Regions from separate parts of the Homo sapiens genome. Here region 1 is linked to region 2. Evidence: fine-mapped expression QTL. Tissue or cell type: whole blood. Region 2 holds a variant in brackets; the other region holds the start of a gene. All regions are shown on one strand. Distances are from middle to middle.

Region 1 (9,932 bases), 43 kb before region 2:
ACTCCAGCCTGGGCAACAGAGCAAGACTCTGTCTCAAAAAAAAAAAAAAAAAAAAAAAAAGAAAAGAAAAGAAAAAAATAAGAAGTAAATTGTAATAGAAAGAAAAGCCCATTTTCTGGGGAGAAATTCAAGCCGGCTGCAGAAATTTGCATTACGTAGCAAGGAGCCTAATGTTAATCCCCAAGACCATGGAGGAAATGTCTCCAGGCCATGTCAGAGAACTTCCTGGCAGCCCCTTCCATCACAGGTCCAGAGGTCCAGGAGGAAAAAGTGGTTTTGTGGGCCAGGCCCTGGGTTCCTGTGCTGTGTGCATCCTAGGGAGTTGGTGTTCTGTGTCCCAGCTGCTCCAGCCATGGCTGAAAGGCACCAACACAGAGCTCAGGCTGTGGTTTCAGAGGGTGGAAGCCCCAAGCCTTGGCAGCTTCCATGTGGTGTTGAGCCTGTGGGTGCACAGAAGTCAAGAATTCAGGTTTGGGAACCTCTGCCTAGATTTCAGAAGATGTTTGGAAATGCCTGGATGCCCAGGCAAAAGTTTGCTGCAGGGGCAGGGCCCTCATGGAGAACCTCTGCTAGGGTGGTGCAGAAGGGAAATGTGGGGTTCAGAGCCCCCACACAGAGTCCCTACTGGGGTACTGCCTAGTGGAGCTGTGAGAAGAGGGCCACCATCCTCCAGACTCTGAAATGGTAGATCCACTGACAGCTTGCACTGTGTGCCTGGAAAAGCCACAGATACTCACCACCAGCCCGTGAAAGCAGCCAGGAGGAAGCCTGTACCCTGCAAAGCCACAGGAGTGGAGCTGCCCAAGATCATGGGAACCCATCTCTTGCATCAGCGTGACCTGGATGTGAGACCCGGAGTCAAAGGAGATCATTTTGGAGCTTTAAAATTTGACTGCCCCACTGGATTTCAGACTTGCATGGGCCCTGTAACCCCTTTGTTTTGGCCAATTTCCCCCATTTGGAACGGCTGTATTTACCCAATACCTGCATCCCCACTGTATCTAGGAAGTAACTAGCTTGCTTTTGATTTTACAGGCTCATAGGCAGAAGGGACTTGCCTTGTCTCAGACAAGACTTTGGACTGTGGAATTTTGGGTTAATTCTGAAATTAGCTAAGACTTTGGGGGACTGTTGGGAAGGCATGATTGGTTTTGAAATGTGAGGACGTGAGATTTGGAGGGGCCGGGGCAAAATGATATGGTTTGGCTGTGTCCCCACCAAAATCTGAACTTGATTTGTATCTCCCAGAATTCCCACGTGTTGTGAGTGGGACCCAAGAGGAGGTCATTGAGTCATGGGGGCCAGTCTTTCCTACGCTATTCTTATAATAGTGAATAAGTCTCACGAGATCTGAAGGGTTTATCAGGGGTTTCCGCTTTTGTTTCTTCCTCACTTTCTCTTGCCACTGCCATGTAAGAAGTGTCTTTCACCTCCCGCCATGATTCCAAGGCCTCCTCAGCCATGTGGAACTGTAAGTCCAATTAAACCTCTTTTTGTTCTCAGTTTCGGGTATGTCTTTATCAGCAGTGTGAAAACGGACTAATACATATATCCATTAAATATATATCTATACTTAACCACTTCTCTCCACCTCCACTGCTCCACTCTAAGCCACCACCATCACTTGCTTGGACTACTGCAGTAGTGTTCTCCCTGATCGCCTGGCTTCTACTATCATTCCCTGCCCATAGCAGTCAGGGACCATGTTAAATCTAACACAGACCATGTCCCTCCTCTGCTCAAAACCCTCCCATGGCTCCTCATTCTTCTTAGAGTAAAAGCAAAATCTTTCCTCTGGTCCTTAAGCCCCTAGGTCACCTGGCTTTCTGGCTTTGCCAATAATCTCTGATCTATTGTGTTTTTTTTTTTGTTTTTGTTTTTTTTTTGTTTGACAGAGTCTTGCTCTGTCACCCAGGCTGGAGTGCAGTGGTGCAATCTCAGCTCATTGCAACCTCTGCCTCCTGGGTTCAAGTGATTCTCCTGTCTCAGCCTCCCAAGTAACTGGGATTACAGGTGTACACCACCATGCCTGGCTAATTTTTTTTTTTTTTTTTTTTTGTATTTTTAGTAGAGACCGGGTTTCACCATGTTGGCTAGGCTGGTCTCGAACTCCTGACCTCAAGTGATCTACCTGCCTCGGCCTCCCAAAGTGCTGGGATTATAGGCGTGAGCCACTGCGCCCAGCCAGCTGACCTATTTTCCTACTATTCTTCCCATTGCTCACTTGGCTCCACTGGTCTCCTCGTTGTTCTTCAAACATGCCCAGGATGGCCCCATTTCAGGGCTTTTGCACTTGCTGTTCCCTCTGCCTGGGACCTCCTTCTCCCAGATAACCACATGGCTCCCTCCCTCATTCCTCCAGGTCTGTCCTCAGAGAGGCCTTCCCTGACCACCTTGTCTAAAAGCTGCACTTCCAGCTTGGGCAAGATAGCAAGACCCCCCCGATCTCTACAAAAAATTAAAAAAAATTAGCCGGGTGTGGTGGTACACACCTGTAGTCCCAACTACTTGGGAGGCTGAGGTGGGAGGCTCGGTTGAACCCAGGAGTTCAGGTTACAATGAGCTGTGATTGTGCCACTGCACCCCAACCTGGGTGACAAAAAAACACAAAAAACAAAAAACAAAAACAAAAAAACTGCACTCCCAGGCTTTCTGCCCCATTGCCTTAGCGTACAGTCCTAGCATGAATCACTTCCAGAACTCATTTGTGTTGTCTTGATTCCTGGCTGCACCTGCTTACCTGGTTCAGGTACAGTGCCTGGCACACAGTAGGCGCTTAGTGAGAGGCTGTACAATGGAGAGCTGACCCTGGTCTGTCCTGTTCTTCCTGCTTTCAGGCCAGGACTTAATAGTGATTGGGAGGTGGCGGGTGGTGGAGAAGAGGCGGCAGGAACAGGAAGGAAGGGTTCAAGGAGGTGGGCAGGGCAAAAACAACAGCAATTCCTATTTCTTGAGAGCTTTCTGTTGTGCCGTGCACTTTACATATCATGATGGTCTTTATTTTCCGGATGAGGAAACGGAGGCTTAGAGAAGTGAAATGATTTCTCTAAGCTCACACAGTGTTCAGTGGCCTAGTGCGACTCGAACTCAAGTCTGCCTAATTCCAGAACTTCCTCTCTTCACCTGGAGCCAGGGGAAGCTTGCGAGGCGCCCTGTCCGTATGGAACAGTGCTGTACGCAAATGTCCTGGATTCAGCTGTTTTTTCTGCCACTCACACATTTTTCAGGAATTAGAGCTATTTTTCTAATTTAACTGGGCATTAAATTTGCTAAACCTGGCAACCCAGGTTTAGCAAATATTTTTATTATTTGTAGAGATGGTGGTCTCCCTCTGCTGCCCAGGCTGGTCTTGAACTACTAGGCTCAGGCAATCCTCCTGCCTCGTCCTGGGGGGAGTTCGGACTTAAGCCTAGGACTTCAGCGAATGGCCCGCCCAGGACCCCCAAATGCTTTTGCAGGCTAATCCACGACCTGGGCCAGTCCTTACCTTTGGAATCGCAATGAGCTTCCCGGGCTCCAATCCGCTTTTCTGGGCTAGGGAACTGGGGAGTCGCGAGCCAGGAGCGGACCCTTTAAGAGTGATTTCGAGGGCGGGCTCACGGGGGCGTGCCGGTTCGGGGCCTGCCAATCGGGAGGTGGGAAGAACGCGGGGGCGGGCCCGGCGCGAGCAGGCTGGGAAGGGTTAAAGGGGCGCGCCCGTGGGTCGCGGACTGTCCGGTTGCTCCCGCCTCCTTCCGTCGGATCCGCGCTCTCCCGCGGCTGCGCCGGCCCGGCCGCCCAGGAGACAAAGCGCTGCCGCCGCCGTCGCCGCCACCGGGCCAGTCCCGAACCATGGCCGGGCCACCCCGCAACCTCGCGCCTCCCGTCCCGTCGCCGCCCTAGGCCTGCGCTGCGAGGTAAGGCGGGCCTGGCGGGGGGACATGCACGAGGACATGGGACCCGGGTCGGGCCGCCCTGGGCCTCGGGGTCCCCCGGCCACCTGGAGAGCGCGTTGCGGGGATCTTCCCCGCTGGGACTCCGCACCAGTGGTGACTTCTCCAGCTGCCGAGGCGAACTTGGCCAATGACCACCCTCCCCTCTCTCAGCCCATAGGGACGTCTGCCGCTGGTGGGGACTGCGGATAAGCCCCCCATTCTGCCGCTGATCACCCATCTGGGGCTCTGGCTGTCCTTTAAGGAACTTAAGAGAGCTCCCACGCACAACACACAAAGGGACAGAGAGCAGCCGGGAGCAGGGCCACACCTGGAGCAGCAGCCCCTGCCGTGGACAAGGGGGCTGCCTGTGTCTGGACGGCGGTGCTGGCGTGTCTCTGGGGTCCCTGCTGGGGCGGTGACGGCCAGGCTGCTCTTTAGTGTTCTTGGCACACATGTTTTTCAGCCTGTGCCTGCCACACCCTCTTCCCCACGCCCGCTGCTGGGGGACACTGAGGGCAGCTGGATTCAACCCCAGGACCTGCGGTACTGGCTTCTTTTCGTTGATGTGAGTGCCAAAATGCCATGCTTCAGTCTCCCAGGAGACCTGGGTTCCGGGGCCAGCTGTGCCCCTGGAGATCTTGGATGAATTATTTGCCTTTTTGACAGCTCTTTCCCTGAAAGCTCACTACCCACCAAGTATTTTGCAAAATGACTCTTCAGGAGTCAATTCACTCAGCCCTTAGAGGGATGGAAGTTAACGTCACCATTTTGCAGATGAGGCTGAGAAAAAACTCCGACTCACAGCAGCTAATATTTGCAATCCATTTCCCATAGTTTGCCAGTGGGTTTTCCTTCTTTTAGCTCATGAACCCTCGCCACACAGCCCAATTTAACAGATGAGGACACTGAGACTTGGAAAGGTGAAACGACTTGTCCAAGGTCCTCCAGCCTGGACCTGCGGAGGCAGGAACTTTGCCTTGGGAGCAGAGCTGGGCCAGGCTCCCTCCAGCTTCCTGTCTGGCCATGGGCTGTTGAATCAGCAGCAGTGCCCACAGTGGACTCTGAACTTCTTGGAAAACAGTGTGGGGAGATAAGGCAGGGGCCAGGCCTTCGCTCCAGGCAAGGCTGGCGCCTGTGCCCCTGCAGCTTCCTGTCTTCCCAGTTCTGGTGGAGGCAGGGGTCATGGGCAGAGCTGGGTCCTGTGCCTGCTGGTGACCTTGAACCAGTTTGGCCTCTATCTAGGCAGTCGGGGGAGGAGGGTTGCTGAGCAGGAGGGAAGTTGCTATTCCTTTGGCCTTGATGGGGTGGAGAGACCCCAAGATCAGCCCCTTTATTTGGGTGGCTTGCCTGGAGCATGTGATTCTGGGCACAGTTGTATGCCTCTAGCCAACTTATTGAATCTCCCTGTGTCCATTTCCACATCTGTGAATGTGGGGTGAGATCCCTTGTCTTGGGGCTGTTGAAAGGTTTCAGAAGATACTGCAGAATGAATCAAACAGCTGTGTGAGTACCTACTGCATGCCAGGCACTAGAATTCAGACCACAAACGCCCCTGCAGGCAGAAATGACCCAGGTATTAATTTCAGGTGGAGGCACAGGAGAGGGACTGGGGGGCCTCTTGTGCATAGGGTGGCCAGGGACCACCTCTCTGAGGAGGTGACAGCTAGGCTGAGACCAAAGGATGGGGAGCTGGCCTTGTGAAGACCTGCAGGCAGACAGCCGGGACCAAGTCTTGGAGGTGGGGATGTGTCTGGTGTATTTGAGGAACAGAAAGGAGGCCAGGATGGCTGGAGCTGAGTGAACAAGGGGGAAAGAGGTAGGGAAAGGGAACTTGGAAGCCAAGGGAGGCTTGGATTTTTTTTTTTTTTTTTTTGAGACAGAATCTCACTATGTCACCCCCCAAGTTCAAGGGGTCCTTCCATGTTAGCCTCCCAGATAGCTAGGACTAGAGGCTTGTATCACCATGCCCAGCTATTTTTTTTTCTATTTTTTATAGAGATAGGGTCTTGCTATGTTGTCCAGGCTGGTCTCTAACTCAAGCAATCCTACCCCCTCAGCCTCCCAAAGTGCCAGCATTACAGGTGTGAGCCACCGCACCCTGCCTAAGGATTTAATTTTATGCTGAGAGAAGTAGGGAGCCATGGGAGGGTTTAGAGCAGAGGAGGAGTGTGATTGGACTTAATTTTCACAGGATCCATCTGTGGGAAGTGGATTTCAGTGTGGCTCGGAGAAGAGCTTAGGAAGGAGGCTTGGATCTTACCTTGAGGAACATGGACAGGGAGGGGCAAGGAGACTTATGAGGAGGCTACAGCAGCCATCCCAGTGAATGGTGATGGGGCCTAGAATGGGGAGGTGGAGTGGACAGATTAGGCAACTGATTTGGAAGACGCTGGAGAGGGGGATCAACTGGACTTGATGTGCGATCAGATGCGGGGGTGAGAGGGAAACCAAGGGCCATTTGCTGAGATCGGAAGCACAACACAGGGATGTTTGGGGAAAAGCCAAGAAAAATGTGAACTGCAACCGCGCTCAGCAGGCACTGTGTGCCTGGCCCCATGCTCCGCAAAGTCCATATAGTCACTGTATCATTGTCACAACAGCCCTGACTTAGGCACTGTTACGATCCCATTTTACAGATGCAGAAACAGAGGCCCAGAGAGATGAATAGCCTGCCTGGGGTCCCCCAGCCCAGATGCTGCAGAGCTGACATTTGAATCCAGAGAAGAGCGAGCTGAGGCTGGAGCTGAGCAGAGGGCAGGGAGGCAAGTGGTGGCCTGAGAGGTAGGAGCGGAACTGGGCAAGCAGGGCGGGAGGGTCCTGTGAGAACCGGGGCCAGCATCCACATGGGAGTTGATGGGTGGTGGTGTGGGGAATGCGTGAATCCCTGCGGCTTAGAGAGGGACAGCTGTAGCTGAGAGGCAGGGTGGGGATTCAACACCTGGAGACTTTGGGGGCTCTGGCCTTGGCCTCCCACTAGGTCAGGACAAACTGACCTCAGTTTCTTTTTTTATTTTAAGTTCCATGATACATGTGCAGAACATGCAGGCTTGTCACATAGGTATACGTGTGCCATGGTGGCTTGCTGCACCATTGACCCGTTCTCTAAGTTCCCTCCCCTCACCCCCGATCCCCCAACAGGCCCCGATATGTGTTCTGCCCCTCCCTGTGTCCATGTGTCTCATTGTTCAACTCCCACTTATGAGTAAGAACATGCGGTATTTGGTTTTCTGTTCCTGTGTTAGTTTGCTGAGGATGATGGCTTCCAGCTCCATCTATTTCCCCGCAAAGGACATGATCTCATTCCTTTTTATGGCTGGATAGTTTTCCATGGTGTGTATGTACCACATTTCCTTTATTCAGTCTATCATTGATGGGCATTTGGGTTGGTTGATCTCAGTTTCTAAGTCACAACTCATGTTCCGTCTTCTAGGAAGCCTTCCCTGACTGCCTATGTGGCTGACAGGAGGTGGCAAGGACAACCCCCTCCACCCTAGGACAGGTAGTCTGGCAGGGCCTCACTGCGGTCACCTGCTCCCAGGAGAGCCACCACCCTGACCTCATTCCACCAGGCTCTGAGAAAGACACCACCCAGGCAGGGGAATGAACACTGAGTGCCTACTGCGTACCAGGACTTTATATCCTTTGCTTCTTGAAAAATGTAGCTACCATCCTATGCAGGCTGAGGCTCTGCAGTGGGAGATAAGGCAGGCTCTCAAAATGGCCATGGAAAACCCCAAGGGAAGGTGGCCAGGCCAGGGACGCAGATGCCACCTCCCGACAAGTCCTTCCTGGCCAGCGTTGCCCCATCATATACTCCTTGGGGGAAGGTGGATGGGGTCACTGTGGCCGATGGCATGGAGTTAGAGTCCTCTATGCTAAATGGCACGGGTCGACCCCCTGCCCCTCCTTCCTGTAAGTCAGCCTAGCCCTGGGCCTGCATCTTTCCCCAAATTCTTTCTTTTTTTTTGAGACGGAGTCTGGCTCTGTCCCCAGGCTGGAGTGTAGTAGTGCAATCTCGGCTGACTGCAACTTCTGTCTCCTGGGTTCAAGCACTTCTCCTGCCTCAGCCTCCCAAGTACCTGGGATTATAGGCACCCCCCACCATGCCTGGCTATTTTTTTTTTTTTTTTGAGATGGAGTCTTGCTCTGTCGCCCAGGCTGGACTGCAATGGCGCAGTCTTGGCTCACTGCAACCTCCGCCTCTTGGGTTCAAGCGATTCTTCTGCCTCAGTCTCCCAAGTAGCTGGGATTATGGGCGTGCACCACCTCACCTGGCTGTTTTTTAGTAGAGATGGGGTTTTGCCATGTTGGCCAGGCTGGTCTCGAACTCCTGACCTCAGGTGAGAAGGATTGGCCTTGGCCTTCCAAAGTGCTGGGATTACAGGCGTGAGCCACTGTGCCCAGCCCCTGTCTTACTATTTTCCATAGAACATGAGACTACCTGGCAGACGTCTTATCTGTTTGTTAACTGTCTGCTCCCTTTCACTTGCCAGTGGCATTTCAACACCACGAGGGCAGGGACCGTGTCCATCTTTTTTTTTTTTTTTGAGACAGAGTGTCACATTATTGCCCGGGCTGGAGTGCAATGGCATAATCTCGGCTCACTGCAACCTCCGCCTCCTGGGTTTAGGTGATTCTCCTGCCTCAGCCTCCCGAGTAGCTGGGATTACAGGCGCCCGCCACCACGCCTGGCTTATTTTTTGTATTTTTAGTAGAGAAGGGGTTTCACTGTGTTGGCCAGGCTGGACGACCCTGTCCATCTTGTTATTGCTATATCCCTAGGCCTGGAACAATGCCTGGCACCCAGTAGATGCTTAATAAACATTTTATGAATGAAATCAATCTCTACAACTCTCCAAAGTTGGTTCTGCTCATCCATTTCATGGATGAACAAACCAAAGTCGAACCACAAAGTCAGGGCTGGGACCTGGCAGGGACTGCAGAAGGCCAGCTGGTCTTGTTCTTGGGATGATGGAAACAGCAGCGCCTGAAATGAGGCCTGGGTTTGGATTTCAGCCCTGCCCAACCTGCTTTGTGACACCAGGGAAGCAGTTAACCTCTCTGTGCCTCTGTTTCCTCATCTGTTGCACTGGTGCCAGGCCAGTCCCTGTGACCTAAGGTCTATTGTGAGATAAAGTGAGTTCATTCCTCTGAAATGTCTGGCATGCAGCAGGAACTCACAACATTATTTCAGGGATACAGGAGGGTAGGAGGTTATGAGGCTGTCTGGGGAGGCCCGTGAGACCCAGGTTCCAGTCCTGTCTCTGCTTCTTAGGAGTTGTGGGCGCATAGGCCAGCTGCTTCCACCCTATGAGCGTCAGTTTCCTCATCTGTGAAACGGGGATGTAGAGTGGCTGCAAGGTCCCCTTGGGGCACTGGGTGACCTAGCGTCAGTGGCCTTGTGCATAACAGCCCTTCTATGGGGTCCAGGCCCCAGGCTCCCCTCCAGGCCCCGCGATTGCCACCATGAAGCTGAACGAGCGCAGCCTGGCCTTCTACGCCACCTGTGACGCCCCGGTGGACAATGCAGGCTTCCTGTACAAGAAGGGTGGGCGGCACGCGGCCTACCACCGGCGCTGGTTCGTGCTGCGCGGGAACATGCTCTTCTACTTCGAGGACGCTGCCAGCCGTGAGCCCGTGGGCGTCATCATCCTGGAGGGCTGCACTGTGGAGCTGGTGGAGGCCGCCGAGGAGTTCGCCTTCGCTGTGCGCTTTGCGGGGACCCGGGCGCGCACCTACGTGCTGGCCGCTGAGAGTCAGGATGCCATGGAGGGCTGGGTCAAGGCCCTGTCGCGTGCCAGCTTCGACTACCTGCGGCTGGTGGTGCGCGAGCTGGAGCAGCAGCTGGCGGCTGTACGTGGCGGGGGTGGCATGGCCCTGCCCCAGCCCCAGCCCCAGTCCCTGCCCTTGCCCCCGTCCCTGCCCTCTGCCCTGGCCCCAGTCCCATCCCTGCCTTCTGCCCCAGCCCCGGTCCCAGCCCTGCCCCTGCCCCGCCGGCCCAGTGCCCTCCCGCCCAAG
Region 2 (9,932 bases):
CTACTGTGCCCCCAGCCCCAAGTGAGCTGATCCTGGCCATTCAGGTAGCATCCATGTGATGCCAAGGCTGACGTGGGCATGTTCCAGGCTCACTGTTACCAACACTGATGCCATGTTGGTGTGGGAGGGCCAGTCTGGGAAAGTGAGAGTCTGTCCTAGGTGTCTGCCCACTGTCGGCAGCAGGAGAGGGGCTGGGGCCAGCTGGAAAACTGACGGTCTTTGGGCCGGGCATGGTGGCTCACGCCTGTAATCCCTGCACTTTGGAAGGCCAACGCGGGTGGATCACCTGAGGTCAGGGGTTCGAGACCAGCCTGGCCAACATGGTGAAACCCCATCTCTACTAAAAATACAAAAAATTAGCCAGGTGTGTTTGCACACACCTGTAGCCCCAGCTACTCTGGAGGCTGAGGCAGGAGAATTGGTTGAACCTGGGAGGCAGAGGTCGCAGTGAGCCGGGATTGCGCCACTGCACTCCAGCCTAGGTGAAAGAACAAGACTCCACCTCGAAAACAAACAAACAAACAAAAAACACAAAAAACTGAGGGTCTTTGAAGGCATCTCCCTCTTGGAAAACTATCTGCACCCATGTCCCAACCTAGAGGGCCAAGAAGCGAAGCGAACAGGATGACATGGAGATGATTGGCAGGAAAGAACACAGCCACCCCCCAATCCCACTCCCCCAGGGAGAACCCCGCCTTTCTGACTCCTCTGACTGAGAATCGCTTCTGACGAAGTGATGGAAAGATTCAGAAATTATCTCTATCAGGAAGACTGTGCTAATTACAGGGCTGGGGGAGTCACATGTGAACAACTGGGTTATTTGGAGAGGGAGGCGACGACAGGGAGAGGCAGGGTCTTCTTGCCTTGCTGGGCTTGTGGGTGGGGTGCCAGACAGGGCTGTGGGCAGCTGGGGACAGGAGAGAGAGCAGAGTGACCAACCCATCCCAGTCTGCCCGCGACTTTCCTTATTTTACTACAGAAAGTTCCAGATCCTGGGAAATCTCTCTCTCCTGGAGAGATAAGGATGGTGCAAGAGAGATGAAAAGAGAGCACTGGAGGGACAGGGAGGGTCAGGGAGGAAGAGACAGAGCAAACAGAGGGGGAGAGAGATGGTGAGAGAGGCAGGGGGAGAGAGAGAGTGGGGTGGGGGGAGGAGAGGGAGAGGGAGAGAGGGAGAGAGGGGGAGAGAGAGAGAGAGAGAGAGAGAGAGAGAGAGATAGGTGAATCAAAAAAATGCAGAGTGAGAAAAACAGAAAGAAGACAATGGAGGTGACTGGGTGCAGTAGCTCATGCCTGTAATCCCAGCACTTTGGGAGGCCAAGGTGGGTGGATCACCTGAGGTCAGGAGTTCAAGACCAGCCTGGCCAACATGGCAAAACCTGTCTCTTCTAAAAATACAAAAAATTAGTTGGGTGCCTGTAATCCCAGCTACTTCGGAGACTGAGGCAGGAGAATTGCTTGAACCCAGGAGCCGGAGGTTACAGTGAGCCGAGATCACACCATTGCACTCCAGCCTGGGCGACAGAGTGAGACTCTGTCACACACACACACACACACACACACACACACACACACACAAAAGAAATTGGAGGAGAGAGACAGAGATCAGGAGAGAGACAGAGGGAAGACAGGGACTGTGTATGGGGACAGGACAGGGCTTCCTTGACTGCTTGAGAATTCTGAGAAACCTCGGATGGAAGGGTCTGGAATACTGATGCTGCCACGGTAGGTAGCGCCGATTATACCCGGGGCTGCGCCTGGCAGTGGACGTGGGGATAAGGGCGTGCTTTATAACCCTCCCGTGGCATCTGGCTCAACTTCAGTAACAGGTATGGTCAGGGTTCCAGTGCCGGTCCCTGCCCGCCCCAGTGGCCAGGGCATACACAAGCGGGGCTTGGACAGGTCCTGACACCCAGCCCCACAGCCAGACTCTGTGGGACTTTGTGGGCAATGGATACACCCTTTTGCTTCCAGGCCCAGTGGGTTATGAACAAGCAGAGGCTGTGAGGGTGGCTCTGCCATCACCACTCTCTCCCTAGGGCCAGCAGCTACAGTAGCCACCTCCAGGCCTGATTCCCTCATCATTATTATTATTGTTTTTGAGACAGGGTCTCGCTCTATTGTCCAGACTGGAAGGCACTCACTCCAGTTCACTGCAGCCTTGACCTCCTAGGCTCAAGCATCCTCATACCTCAGCCTCCTGAGTAGCTGGGACTACAGGCACCTGCCACCATGCCCAGCTGATTTTTGTATTTTTGTAATTTTGTACAGAAGGGGTTTTGCCATGTTGGTCAGGCTGGTCTCAAACTCCTGACCTCAAGTGATCCGCCTGCTTTAGCCTCCCAAAGTCCTGGGACTACAGGTGTGACGCACTGTGCCTAGCCTTGGCTTCCTATTCTGGGAGAGCAGGGGACCCCGCCACCTCTACTCACATCCCTTCCCAGGCCGTGCATGGTCCCACCTCCTAGCCGCTGCCTGTGCCATTCCTTCCACAAGGAGCACCATTCTCCATCTTCTCTGCTTACCTCTATCCTACCTGTGGTCAAATCCTTCCATGACAATAAAATCTACAACCAAAACAATCAGACATTGGGGAAATGCAAATAAAAACTACAGTGAAATACCACTTACACACCCACCAGGATGGCTAGCGTCAACAAATGGGAGATAACCCATGTTGGTAAGGACCTGGAGAAACAGAAACCCTTTGAACTTCCTCAGTAAGTTAAACACAAGAGTTACCATATGATCTAGCCAACTGTACTCCTAGATATATGTTCGAAGAACTGAAAATGGGGGTTCAAACACAAATATGTACACAAATTTTCATAGGCGCATTATTCAAAATAGTCAAAATGGGGTCTATCCATACAATGGAATATCATTTAGCCATAAAAAAGGAAGGAAATTCTGATGCATACTACAGCCTGTATGAGCCTTGAAAACACGTTAACTGAAAGAAGCCAGCCACAGAAGGCCAAGTAGTACAGGATTCCATCTATATGAAACATTCAGAAGAGGCAAATCCAGACAGAAAGAAAGCGGAATTCCAGGAGCTGGGGGGAAGGAGGATGGGCAATGACTGCTGGATGGGTATGGGGTTCCTTTTTGGGGCGGTGGGAATATTCTGGAATTAGACAGAGGTGATGGTCACACGCATTGTGCATGTATTAGATCCACTGAATTGTATACTTCAAAAATGGTTTAAAAGGTACATTTTACGTTATGTGATTTTTGTTTGTTTGTTTCTTTGTTTGAGACAGAGTCTCACTCTGTCACCCAGGCTGCAGTGCAGTGGTGCCATCCGGCTCACTGCAACCTCTGCTTCCTGGGTTCAAGCGATCCTCTCGCCTTAGCCTCCCGAGTAGCTGGGATTACAGATGCGTGCTACCACACCCGGCTAATTTTTGTACTTTTAGGAGAGACGGGATTTCTCCATGTTGGCCAGGCTGGTCTCAAATTCCTGGGCTCAAGTGATCGGCCCGCCTCGGCCTCCCAAAGTGCTGGGATTACAGGTGTGAGCCACGGTGCCCAGCTGTTATGTGAATTTTACTACAGTAAAAAAGTTAGTTAAAACCTAACACCACAGACCAGGCGCAGTGGCTCACCACTCCAGCCTGGGTGACAGAGTGAGACTATGTCTCAAAAAACCAAAAACCAACCCCCTCCATCACCACAACACTATAAAACAAAACCAACCCCTACCCCACCACAAGACTATAAACAAAACCCACCCCTCCCCCAACACAACACTATAAACAAAACCCACCCCTCCCCCACAACACTATAAACAAAACCCACCCCTCCCCCACCACAACACTATAAACAAAACCCACCCCTCCCCCACCACAACACTATAAACAAAACCAACCCCTCCCCCAACACAACACTATAAACAAAACCCACCCCTCCCCCACCACAACACTATAAACAAAACCCACCCCTCCCCCACCACAACACTATAAACAAACCCACCCCTCCCCCACCACAACACTATAAACAAAACCAACCCCTCCCCATCACAACACTATAAACAAACCCACCCCTCCCCCACCCCAACACTATAAACAAAACCCACCCCTCCCCCACCCCAACACTATAAACAAAACCCACCCCTCCCCCACCACAACACTATAAACAAAACCCACCCCTCCCCCACCCCAACACTATAAACAAAACCCACCCCTCCCCCACCACAACACTATAAACAAAACCCACCCCTCCCCCAACACACTATAAACAAAACCCACCCCTCCCCCAACACACTATAAACAAAACCCACCCCTCCCCCAACACAACACTATAAACAAAACCCACCCCTCCCCCAACACAACACTATAAACAAAACCCACCCCTCCCCCACCACACTATAAACAAAACCCACCCCTCCCCCACCACAACACTATAAACAAAACCCACCCCTCCCCCAACACAACACTATAAACAAACCCACCCCTCCCCCACCACAACACTATAAACAAAACCCACCCCTCCCCCACCACAACACTATAAACAAAACCCACCCCTCCCCACCACAACACTATAAACAAAAAAGGATGGAAGTCTTTTCCCAGGTAGGCTCTGGGGTAGACACATTTCGGGACCCTAGGGGGCAGGAAGCCTGATGGCCCACAGCCCAGGGTGCTCATCCTAGGTCTGCCACTCACTGGATGATGGCCTTGGGCAAGTCACTGCACTACCATGCCCCTGGATTTCCTCATCTGTGAAATGGAAATGATAAACAGTCCCTTTGGTGGAGACTGACATGAAGATTACAGGACAAAGCACTTTGACCACTTGGTGCTATGTGTGGTAAGTGGCAGCGGTCATTAGCATTAGCATGGCTGCTTTTTTTTTTTTCTTTTGAGACGGAGTCTCGCTCTGTCGCCCAGGCTGGAGTGCAGTGACAGGATCTCGGCTCATTGCAAGCTCCGCCTCCCGGATTCACACCATTCTCCTGCCTCAGCCTCCTGAGTAGCTGGGACTACAGGCGCCTGCCACCACGCCCGGATAATTTTTTTTTTTTTTTTGTAATTTTAGTAGAGACGGGTTTCACCGAGTTAGCCAGGATGGTCTCAATCTCCTGACCTTGTGATCCGCCTGCCTCAGCCTCCCAAAGTGCTGGGATTACAGGCATGAGGCACCCCACCCGGCCAGCATGGCTGCTTTTAATCCTCGTTACAGCCTTATGGAGAGGAGTTTTTAAATCATTGTATTTATAAACTATTAAAAACATATAGAAATATACAGACAACAATATGTAAGTCCTCCCCTCCCTTCCACCCATCACCGTAATCGATGCTGACACTTCACCCCCGTCACTTCCAATCTTCCTTCTTGTTTTAAAGAAACAGGAAAGGGCCAGGTGCTGTGGCTCACGCCTGTAATCCCAGCACCTTGGGAGGCCAAGGTGGGTGGATCACCTGAGGTCAGGAGTTCAAGACCAGCCTGACCAACATGGAGAAACCCCGTCTCTACTAACAATACAAAATTAGCTGGGCATGGTGGCGCACGCCTGTAACCCCAGCTACTCGGGAGGCTGAGGCAGGAGAATCGCTTGAACCCGGGAGGCAGAGGTTGCAGTGAGCCGAGATCATGCCATTGCACTCCAGCCTGGGCAACAGAGCAAGACTCTGTCTCAAAACAAAAACAAAAACAAAACAAAACAAAAAAAAGAATAGGAAAGGAGCAGAGCAAAGTCACCACGCCCTGCCTCTTCCTGGCCCCCTCCCTGCCCAGTGCAACCTCCCTCCCCAGCTGGGGGGCTGCCTCCTTATGCATTTCTTTCTTTCTTTTTTTTTTTTTTTTGAGACAGAGTCTCACACTGTTGCCCAGGCTGGAGCGCAATGGTGAGGATCTCAGTTCAACTGCAACCTCTGCCTCCCAGGTCATGTGATTCTCCCGCTTCAGTCTCCTAAGCAGCTAAGATTACATGTGCACGCCACCATTTCCAGCTAATTTTTTGTATTTTTAGTAGAGACGGGGTTTCACCATGTTGGCCAGACTGGTCTCGAACTCCTGACTTTGTGATCCGCCCGCCTTGGCCTCCCAAAGTGCTGGGATTACA[G/A]GTGTGAGCCATCACACCCGGCCTATACATTTCATTTTATTAATTCTTTTAGAGATGGTCTCACTTGCCCAGTGCAGTGTGAGATGCACTGCAGTGGCATGATCATAGCTCACTGCAGCCTCGAACTTCTGGGCTTAAGCGATCCTCCTGCCTCACCCTTACAGGCACATGCTACCATACCCGGCTAATTTTTTATTTGTAGAGATGAGGTTTCGCCATGTTGCCAAGGCTGATTTCAAACTCCAGGCTTCAAGAGATCCTCCTGCCTTCACCTCCCAAAGTATTGGGATTACAGGCGTGAGCCACTGTGCTCGGCCTCCTTTTTTCTGAGACAAGGTCTTACTCTGTCACCCAAGCCGGAGTGCAGTGGGATGATCACAGCTCAAGTGATCCTCCTGCCTCAGCCTCCCGAGTAGCTGGGACCACAGGTACGTACCATTCCAACTGATTATTTTTATATTTTGTAGAGACACGGTCTCCCTCTATTGCCCAGGCTGATCTTGAACTCCTGGCTTCAAGAGATCCTCCAGCCTCAGCCTCCCAAAGTGCTGGGATTACAGGCGTGAGCCCCCATGCCTGTCCTCAGCCTCTTTTTAAATATTAATGCATAAGTCTGCAGCCATACAGCTACACCAGTGTGCAGTCTCATCCTGTAGGTGTTAGCTTCTATAGTAAGCACTGTCACTGGGATGGAGGCTTTTGTCACTTGACATTATGTTTCCAGTCCATATTCCTGTTGATATGGGCCTGCTGACCTGGCTCGTTTCTGTGAACCTGAGATATGGTTTTGTCCTATTGACAAGACTGAGCTCAGATCCTTGGACTCAGGGTCTGGCCTCCCCTGGTCTCTGCCCTTCTCAGTGGGCAGGTCTGATGTCCTCTCCTTGCAGTCACGTGCCCTCATTCCAGTGCAGGGCCCGGGTAGGTGCCTCACCAGGGCCCTGGCAGACTTATCCGCTGGTCCCCACAGTGGCAGGGAGCTGGGGCTCCCCCTAGCACTTCCGGACTCTGGGACTTTGGGCATCCCTCTGAGCCTCCGTTTCCTCACCCGGGCAAAGCTGACACTCCAGCCTGCTCGTGCTATCATGGGCAGCTGGGTGGCACTGCCCAAGGCCCTGTGCTAAGAAGGAGTCTGAGGCTGCACGCTAGGTCTTCAGGAAACAGAGCTGAGATCGATGAGCAATTCCAGATGTGGGACTCCACATGCAAAACACATTCTCCACCTGCTCTGAGCACCATGGAGCCACTTGGAGGCTTAAAGCCAGGACCCAGTGCATCAGGCGTGCAGCTTCTAGAAGCCTCCCTCTGGTTGGAGGAAGGAAGAAAGGGGAGCAGAGAAACCCCAGGACCCCCCGCCATGTTCCAGTGCAGCCATGACAGTGACTGGGATGAAAGCCAGGGCAGCAGGGAGGGAGAGATAGGTAGACTCGGGCAGTAAAGCCAGGCGGACATGCCACTGCGCAGGTGGGAAGTTTGCCAGCACCCCCTGAGATGCTCCTGCCCGCACTCACCCTGGGAGGCACCAGGCTGCTGGCCCACTGCCTGGCCGAGCTGGTCAGAGAGCCACAGCTGCATGCGGATGAAGGGCTCCCGCCCCTTCTGCGTCAGCTTGCTCCATGGCTTCGGCCGGGACAGCATGTCGCTCACGCTGCCCTGTGACAGGCCCAGCACCTGCGAGGGGCGGGCCAGGGGGGTAGGTCAGCAGGCCCCTGGGACATGGGCCTGGCCCTCACTCTCCTCCCCAACCTTTTTTTTTTTTTTTTTTTTTTTGAGGCAGAGTCTCGCTTTGTCTGTCGCCCAGGATGGAGTGCAGTGGCACCATCTCAGCTCACTGCAAACTCCGCCTCCCAGGTTCAAATGATTCTCCTGCCTCAGCCTCCTTAGTAGTTGGGACTTGTACCAGGCTGGTGCACGTCTGGCTAATTTTTGTATTTTTAGTAGAGATGGGGTTTTGCCACATTGGCCAGGCTGGTTTCGAACTCCTGACCTCAAGTGATCCACCCAACTCAGCCTCCCACAGTGTTGGGATTATAGGTGTGAGCCACCATGCCCAGCCTCCCATCCCCTCCCCTCCCCTCTGTTGGAGTCCAGGCGGCCTTCATTTGTTCCTCATAGGTGCCTGCCATGTGCTGTTGCTGTGCCCTTCCCCTCCAGTACCCTCCCTAATGTCCCTACATGTAAAAATCCTTCAGTGCCCCCCTCCTCCAGGAAGCCTTCCCTGACCTCCCACTTAAGTCATTTCTCCCTCCTCCGAGCTTGCCTGGCCCTTTGCCTATTCCCTTGCTAAAGGTAGAGGTGACACTTAAAACTGGCATTGCAGGGGCACCAACCAATCAGGAAACACTGAGGTCCCCTGGCTAGGGTGAGCTTTATTTAACCCTTTCTTTTTAAATTTTTATTTATTTTTGGGGGGATGAGGTCTTGCTCTGTTGCCCAGGCTGGAGTGCACTGGTGTGATCATGGCTCACTGTAGCCTCGACCACCTGGGTTCAAGCAATTCTCCCACCTCAGCCTCCTGAGTAGCTGTGCACCACCACACTTGGCTAATTTTTTTTATTTTGTAGAGATGGGGGTCTTGCTACATTGCCCAGGCTGATCCCAAACACTTTTTTTTTTTTCTTTTGAGATGGAGTATCGTTCTGTCACCCAGGCTGGAGCACAGTAGCGAGATCTTGGCTCGCTGCAACCCCTGCCTCCCAGGTTCAAGTGATGCTCCTGCCTCAGTCTCCTAAGTAGCCATGACTATACCGGCACAGGACACCAAGCCCAGCTAATTTTTATATTTTTAGTAGAGATGGGGTTTCACCATGTTGGCCAGGATGGTCTTGATCTCTTGATCTCATGATCTGCCCGCCTCAGCCTCCCAAAGTGCTGGGATTACAGGTGTGAGCCACCGTGCCCAGCTTAATTTTTGTATTTTTTAGTAGAGACGGGGTTTCACCACGTTGGCCAGGCTGGTCTCAAACTTCTGGGCTCAAGAGATCTTCCCACCTCCGTCTCCCAAAGTGCTGGGATTACAGGCGTGAGCCACCAAGTCCTGCCACTTAACCCTTTAGTGGCTGGACCTCAGGCGATCTGGAGGGGCCTGGAGGAGGGGAGTTAAGTGGCTGTTTGCTGGCCAGGATGGAAGCATTTCCTGGTTTTAACAACCACGGAGCAGAACAGTGGCCCTCCTTCCTGCGGGACCCAGGGACAGCAGGACTCAGGAATGAAGGGCCTGGGCCCCTGGGGTCCCGCCAGCCTGCTTGGGTGGGCATCCTACTTCTCCGACATCTTCTCCCAGAGCCCAGACACCGGGGGCCCGCCCTGCACTCACCTTCTCCCCGAAGATCCTCTGGCAGATGCCGTTCTTGGCCAGCTTCTCCTTGACCTGGCGGGTGAGCTCCAGCGTGTCTACCTCACGGTACATGTACAGCTCGTACTGCTCGGGGGTCAGCGGCGGCACGGTGGGCTTCAGGGTGCGCGGCACGTAGGCCGGGTAGTAGGGCAGCCGCGCGCCCGCCTCGGCCGTCGCGCCCTCAGCCTTGAGCTCGCCCGTCCTGGGGGGTTCGTCCTCCGCCCCTGCCGCCGCCTCGTCCTCGGGGGGCACAGGGGCCTCGTCCCCGCGGGGCCAGGCGCGGCCGTTGGGCTGGCCAGAGTAGCCAGAGGAGGAGGAGGAGGACAGCGAGGGCGACACGGAGGCGTAGGGGCGGCTGAGCAGGCCGCGGTCGGAGGCCCAGTGGTGGTCGAAGTAGCCGGCGTCGCCGATCTCGGACTTGACCTTGCGGATGATGCTCTGCACGAAGGCGGCGGGGGACAGGACCGGGAGCGGCGCCTGCGCGGGGCCCCCGCTGCCCTCCTCCTGCTTCACCAAGGCCGGGGCCCC

Evidence for each region. PIP is the estimated chance that this variant, and not a neighbour inherited with it, causes the effect.
Region 1: it holds the start of PHETA1, and the variant in region 2 is fine-mapped to the expression of PHETA1 in whole blood (TOPMed, PIP above 0.99).

The regions. Positions count from the first base shown.
Region 1 is chr12:111,362,876-111,372,807 of GRCh38, reverse strand. PHETA1 (PH domain containing endocytic trafficking adaptor 1) reads left to right here and starts at 3,713. Exons shown (of 3, transcript NM_144671.6): 1 at 3,713-3,896; 2 at 6,551-6,695; 3 at 9,345-9,932. The coding sequence starts at 9,381. LINC02356 (long intergenic non-protein coding RNA 2356) reads right to left here and starts at 3,547. Exons shown (of 4, transcript NR_187522.1): 1 at 3,488-3,547; 2 at 738-839. RefSeq lists a silencer at 3,543-4,122.
Region 2 is chr12:111,320,227-111,330,158 of GRCh38, reverse strand. CUX2 (cut like homeobox 2) reads right to left here. Exons shown (of 22, transcript NM_015267.4): 17 at 9,384-9,932; 18 at 7,579-7,738. Among named protein-coding and RNA genes, the nearest start is that of MIR6760, 21 kb to the right of the region's middle. The variant G/A (reference allele first, on the strand shown) is at 6,068.